2 linked regions of the Homo sapiens genome follow. The protein of the gene in region 2 purifies or fractionates together with the protein of the main gene of each other region. This does not show direct contact. Each region holds a gene or a part of one and is shown on either strand. Other genes may lie near its edges.

Region 1 (3,489 bases), on a different chromosome or scaffold from region 2:
GCACCCCAGGCTAGGCAACAGAGTGAGAGAGTCTGTCTCAAAAACACACACACACACACACCCACCAACAGAGTGAGAGAGTCTGTCTCAAACACACACACACACACACCACCCCCCACCCCCCCACCCCCAAGGCTAGGCAACAGAGTGAGAGTCTGTCTCAAAACACACACGCACACATTGCTAAGGGCTTTATATTATTTTCTATAGTTTGCTTTATTTGGTTTAACTTAAATGTAACTTGTCTCTTAAAAATTACAGATCATTGAATATGAGAAAAAGCAAACCCTGGGACAGAATGATACCGGCTTTAGTTGTGATGGGACAGCTAACACATTCAGGGTCATGTTCAAGGAACCCATAGAGATCCTGCCCAATGTGTGCTACACAGCATGTGCAACACTCAAAGTAAGAGTCATGCACTATGTTCCAGATGGTTTCCTCTTGAATGTTGCAGAATGTGTGTTTTAGAAGCTGAGAGTCACTGACAGCTGAGCCATTTATAAAGAGGGGGGAAAAGAAGCTGGGAGCTAAAATATTCCACTGCCTTCCGAAAAGAAGTACTTCTCCCCACAGCTCTGTTCTGAAAGAAATAGCTCTTCTTAAGAAGTAGCCCTTTGTTTCAGTAAGCAGTTGAATGTTTGGCAGAAAATAAAAGTTATTTTTGTAAAATCTTTTCACTATTCTCTAATAGCTGGGCTGTACATTCAGTATTTTTATTCATTAATTAGTTTTTTGGTAAAAACTTCATTTTTCTCTAAATGACAGCATAAAATTTTATATAGGAATGATAGTGAAATATAATGGAACATTAATCTAATTAAAACACCACATTAAACTGAGTGCTTATTAAATGAAAATTACTAAGGAACCTTTTGTTCTCATTTAGGGTCCAGATTCCCACTATGGCACAAAAGGATTGAAGAAAGTAGTGCATGAGACACCTGCTGCAAGCAAGACTGTTTTTTTCTTTTTTAGTTCCCCTGGCAATAATAATGGCACTTCAATAGAAGATGGACAAATTCCAGAAATCATATTTTATACATAATTTAGCATTATAATACATCTTGGCTAAATAATACCATACAATCTAGTGTCAAAAACATAAATGGCCACAAAAAAGTAGTTTGAGTGTTATGAATATTTAAAATTGTAAGATAAGAAACAGTTTCTTAGAGCAGATAGAAAAATGCTTATTTAAATCTTTGCATGATTTAAAAACAGATTTTCCATTTTCTTACAACTTTAAGAGAAAAGAACTGGGTTTAATGGTTTAAAAAAAAGCACAGCTTTTTCACCTTCATCTTGTATAATTTCATAGATTGGCTGACTTAGGGTCTTTCAATAGTTTGGGAATTGAAAGATTCTTGTTATATATAGCTAGTTTGGGTTTGTTTTTGTTTTAACTATTTTGAAGGTTAGGTGAGATGGGCAAATAGGCTTAACTATTTTGAAGGTTGGATGAAAAGAGATGGGTCAGTATTCCTACAGAATTCTTATTAACTCAAATAACTAAATTTCAGAAAATTAAGAAGCTGACTTTATATTTGGTGGTTTGAAGTATCTTGTTGTTAGCATTTGTAATAATGCTAAAAAAGGCCTAATAAAATGCCCAAGAAAATATTCAGTGCATTTATAGAGAAGGATATTTTGTAGTAGTATAGTAATGTGTTATGTAGTACAGTTTTAAAGCTATAAATGGAATTTTGTGTAAATTCACAAAAATGTGATATAAACAGGATCTAAGACTGGATTCCCTGTCACTAAACTGCACCACTATACCTGTCTCTCTGTGTGGGGGACACTGCTGATGATTCCCAAGATTGAGATGATGACGGTGATGACGACTGGGTGAACAGCCATCACTTCAACATTGTGATAATCCTTCACAGCAAGAAACCGAATAAAATACTAACATTTCTAACAACTGCTCTGACATTGTAAAGAGATCCAACAGAATCACTCCTGCTGAAAAATACGCTTTCTGCCACCTACACATTTCTATTTAGGAAGTAAAATTTGCTTCATGGTCATGACCCCATTAGTCAGTGTTACAGCTGTGTTGGGGATAGGAAGTATATCTGGCAGATTGATATTTATACACTTTTTTATAAAGCAGATTTTAAAATATAGTAACATCCATTTTTTTCCCTTGAAAGTGATTCTCTTATAAAAAATGAAAGTGGAGTTTAAGGTATATCAAATCGTTGTGGAAGGTGATTAAAAATCAAAATTCTTTTAAATATCAACTTAATTTTTTCTAAGTAAGATACAAAAAATTTTCATCTAAAGTAATATTTCACTTTATATTGTAAAGAAGGTAGGTATATTGGTGGCTGAGGTCTCTTGAAATTGCTAAAGGGAAATTTTTCTATGGTAATGCTCTTACGGATATAAACCTCAGTTAAATGGAATTATCTATGGGATGTGTGGTTCTGGTTAACTAAAAATTAACCAGTAAACACTCTGTAGTAACCATTACAGAAAATACTTCTGCCTTAAAAAATATGATATGCCAGAGATGAGTTAGTGTTTCTTGACGTTGGAGACCTTTTAAATGCCTCATCTGTTGTACTGAACAATTGAAACTGCATGCAGCCATAAAAGGGACAAGAAACAGAACTGTTTACTAACTTTGGGACATCCCCTGGAGTTTTTAAAAATAAATAAATATATATATATATAAAAAAAACTCTTTTATGTCATTTGCCTTTTTCTTCTAAAAGTGAATATAAACAGAATTTTGATTTGTTTTTTGTTTGTTTTTTGAGATGAAGCCTCGCTCTGTTGCCAAGGCTGGAGGGCAGTGGTGCAATCTCGGCTCACTGCATCCTCCACCTCCTGGATTCAAGCTATTATGCGGCCTCAGCCTCCAGAGTAGCTGGGATTACAGGTGCCCACCACCACGCCCAGCTAATTTTTGTATTTTTAGTAGAGATGGGGTTTCACTATGTTGGCCAGGCTGGTCTCGAACTCCTGACCTCAGCTGCCTTGGCCTCCCAGAGTGCTGGGATTGATTACAGGCGTGAGCCACCACGCCTGGCTGTCAACACCATTTTGGAACAAAGGTTCTAGTTAATTGAGGTTTAACTTAATGGGAGTAATGCAATACAAAATACAAATACCTCATTGCTGATTTAAACCAGTTCATAGGAACTGCAGTGATAACTGCCGCAGCCTTTTGTTTCTTGATCATTTCTTGTGGCCTCAGGTTTTTCTCCTGTTCTAATCAGGAGGTGGAGGTTGAATGTGGGAGAATCCAATAAATAATCTTATTTACTGTTAAGAGTGTGACTATCATCTTACAGCTGTTTATTAATAACTACCCAAGTGACTACTAGGCTCTGCAATGAGTACTTTACTACATTCTTACTTGTTTCTCACAGCATCAGTATGAGGGAAGTACCCATTTCACAGGCAAAGAAATTAAAAGGTCAGCTAGGCTGGGCACGGTGGCTCACACCTGTAATCCCAGCACTTTGAGAGGCT
Region 2 (3,824 bases):
TCCGGCCTGCCAACATGTGTCAAGCCAATGGGGCCTACAGCCGGGAGCAGTTCAAGCCTCAAGCCACCAGTAAGTGAGGGTCTCAGCTAGGGCCTTTCTCCATCTCCCTGGGGGAGGACAAGGGAGAGGGACGCAAGCAGCCCACAGGGCAGGTGGGAAGGTAGCTAATCAAATCCCCATGCACTTTGTACCAATGCTCTTGAGCCTCAGCACATGTTGGCTTAGGGGTATTCAGGGCGCAGAGGAAACCAGTCAGATGGTCCTTTTTTTTTTATTTTTCCAGAACTCAGGATTAACTGAAATCTACCACTTCCTGATGATAGGGGCTATCAGGGCTCAATGCCACAGCCTAACCTCTCCCTGCAGCCCCTATACATAAGTTGCCACTACAGGCATCGCCGAGGCCCCAGGTTCCTGAGCTTTCTTAGCCTTGCTCTGCTAAGTTTTGACAAAACTTTTTTTTTTTTTTTTTTTTTAAAGACAGAGCCTTACTCTGTGCCCAGGTTGGAGTGCAGTGGTGCTATCTCGGCTCACTGTAACCTCCGCCTCCCGGGTTCAAGCAATTCTCATGTGTCAGCCTCCTGAGTAGCTGGGATTACAAGTGTCCACCACCATGTCCAGTTAATTTTTTTAGTAGAGATGGGGATTCACCATGTTGGCCAGGCTGGTCTTGAACTCCTGGCCTCAAGTGATCCGCCCACCCTGGCCTCCCAAAGTGTTGGGATTACAGGCACAAACGACCGCTCCCGGCCTTTTTTTTTTTTTTTTTTTGAGACAGTGTCGCTCTCATTCTGTCACCCATTCTGTAATACAGTGGCATGATCATAGCTCACTGCAGCCAGAACTCCTGAGCTCAAGCAATCCTCCTGCCTCAGTCTCCAGAATAGCTGGGACCACAGGTGTTCCCCACACCCAGCTTTTTTTGAGACGGAGTCTCGCGCTGTCACCCAGGCTGGAGTACAGTGGCACGATCTCGGCTCACTGCAACCTCCACCTCCTGGGTTCAGGCAATTCTCATGCCTCAGCCTCCCAAGTAGCTAGGATTACAGGCACCATCACCATGCCCTGCCCAGCTAATTTTTTTTTTTTTTGAGACTGAGTCTTGCTCTGTCGCCCAGGCTGGAGTGCAGTGGCACCATCTCGGCTCACTGCAAGCTCCACCTCCCAGGTTCACGCCATTCTCCTGCCTCAGCCTCCCGAGTAGCTGGGACTACAGGCACCTGCCATCACGCCGGGCTAATTTTTTTGTATTTTTAGTAGAGGTGGGGTCTCACCGTGTTAGCCAGGATGGTCTTGATCTCCTGACCTCGTGATCCGCCCACCTCGGCCTCCCAAAGTGCTGGGATTACAGGCATGAGCTACCGCGCCCGGCCCATGCCCAGCTAATTTTTTGTATTTTTAGTAGAGATGGGGTTTCACCATGTTGGCTGGGCTGGTCTCGAACTCCTGACCTCATGATTTGCCTGCCTCAGCCTCCCAAAGTGCTAGGATTACAGGTGTGAGCCACCGTGCCTGGACTTTTTTTTTTTTTTTTTTTTTAGAGATAGGATATCGGTCAGGCGTGATGGCTCATGCCTGTAATTCCAGCACTTTGGGAGGCCGAGGCTGGCAGATCGTTTGAGCTCATGTGTTTGAGACCAGCCTGGGCAACATGGCAAAACTCCATCTCTACTAAAAAAAAAAAAATACAAAAATTAGCTGGGCACGATGACGTCCACCTGTAGTCCCAGCTACTCGGGAGGCTGAGGTGGGAGGATGACTTGAGCCCGAGAGGTTGCAGTGAGCCGAAATTGTATCACTGCACTCCAGTCTGGGCGACAGAGTCAGACCTTGTCTCAAAAAAAAAAAAAAAAAAGAAGAAAAAAAGAGATGGGGGTCTCACTACATCCATTAGGCTGGTCTTGAACTCCTGGTCCTAAGCAATCCTCCCACCTCAGCCTCCCAAAGTGTTGGAATTACAGACCATACCCAAACTCTTTTCTTGGTTCTTTCCACCTCTTCCTGCCTCTCTTGACAGTACAGTATTGCTCAGGAGAACCCAGGGTAGCAGCAGGTGTACGGAAGCCCTGTCTGCATGACCAGGCACCCTGCAGCAAGCACGTGCACTTGGGAACACAGACCATGAATAAGGGCACCCTTTACAGCCTAACTAGGCCATTTCTTTTTGGCCCTACAGGGGATTTGGAGAAGGAGAAACAAAGACTCCAAAATATCTTTGCCACAGGGAAGGACATGGAGGAACGGAAAAGAAAGGCCCCTCCTGCACGACAGAAGGCTCCAGCCCCTGAGCTAGACCGATTTGAAGAGCGTAAGACTCCGACGGACCAGTCATGCTGGGGGTGGGGGTAATGTGAGGAGGGGGCCCAGAATTGGATGGAGCAGTCAGGGGATCCCTGAGGGCCAAGGGCCAACAAGTGAGAAACACTATTTATTTATTTATTTATTTATTTTGAGACAGTCTTGCTCTTATTGCCCAGGCTAGAGTGCAGTGGCGTGATCTGGGCTCACTGCAGCCTCCACTTCCCAGGTTCAAGCAATCCCTCCTGCCTCAGCCACCTGAGTAGCTGGGATTACCAGCGCCCGCCACCATGCCTGGCTAATTTTTGTATTTTTAGTAGACACGGGGTTTCACCATGTTGGTCAGGCTGGTCTCGAACTCCTGACCTCGTGATCCACCTGCCTTGGCCTCCCAAAGTGCTGGGATTATAGGCGTGAGCCACCGCGCCCGGCCTAGAAACACTATTTGACAATAGAACCACTTCCTCTCCTCAAGAGAGGCAACCCGCTGCCTGCATCCCTCATGGGAACCTGACAGCCCTCTCCTCTGTCCAGTGGTGAAGGAAATCCAGGAGAGGAAAGAATTCCTGGCTGACATGGAGGCCCTGGGACAGGGCAAACAGTACCGAGGAATCATCCTTGCTGAAATCTCCCAGGTAGGAGAAACAACCAGGAAAGTGGGGAGGGGAAGGGCCCAGCGCCAAGTGCGAATGGAAATACAGGGTCTGCTGTGGCAGGGTTCAGGGGTCAGGCTCTAGCTCACTGCTGTGACAGCTCCTCAGGTTCCTAGCCCTGATACACCTGCTTTCCCTGATGCCCTTTGCAGAAACTCCGGGAAATGGAAGACATTGACCACAGAAGGAGTGAGGAACTTAGGAAGGGTCTTGCCACCACTTAATCTGTCTCCAGAGACGGGCAGGGTAGCCCAAGCTCGACCACTGGAGTCCACTCCTCTGCCAGGCAGGGCCATCCTCAGGCCAGCCCATCCTACCAGCCTTCTGCCACGTCAGGTGGTGGCATAGCACTGCCCTGCAGTACCCCAAGGCATACTCAGCAGCCTAGCCCCTGCCCCGGAATGCAGATGGAGCCTCTGAGACTCACAGCCCCGTCCGCAGAGAAGCAAAGCCCGAGCATCCCTACTAGGACATGTGTCTAAAGGTATCCACTGGGCCTGCTTCCCACCACTTCTGACCTGTGGCCTGTTCATTTAGTTTTCTGAATTCAGGAATGAATATGATTCCTTTCTTCCTGTTTTAGGATTTACTTATTTGATTTCTTACCGCCTTAGGCAAGTATTCAACCACAATGATTAACTGGCCAATAAAACATATTTAACGTGGGTCATTACAAGCACCATTTTGTTTTCAGAGGGATAAGCTTATTTGTTCAAGGCATTAGACTTTGTCAAGCCCAGATGGTTTCTAGCTACCTGTTTGCATATTTCAAGTGGCAACGGGAACCAACCTCTTGGGCACCCCATGGCTGGCTGCTGTGGCGGGTGCTGAATTCCACTCTGTTAATGATCTCAATAAACCTCTGCAACGGTT

The links.
Region 1: the proteins of C22orf23 (region 2) and BTBD1 purify together in Homo sapiens (affinity purification with mass spectrometry; one large-scale study listed by BioGRID and IntAct). This does not show direct contact.

What each region holds. Positions count from the first base shown.
Region 1 is NC_000015.10:83,015,626-83,019,114, reverse strand, and holds the end of BTBD1 (BTB/POZ domain-containing protein 1), read left to right. Parts: intron 1-261; coding exon 262-408; intron 409-889; coding exon 890-1,048; 3' UTR 1,049-2,692; downstream 2,693-3,489.
Region 2 is NC_000022.11:37,943,526-37,947,349, reverse strand, and holds part of C22orf23 (UPF0193 protein EVG1), read left to right. Parts: coding exon 1-69; intron 70-2,176; coding exon 2,177-2,308; intron 2,309-2,832; coding exon 2,833-2,933; coding exon of another isoform or gene 2,934-3,035; exon of another isoform or gene 3,036-3,103; coding exon 3,104-3,175; 3' UTR 3,176-3,824.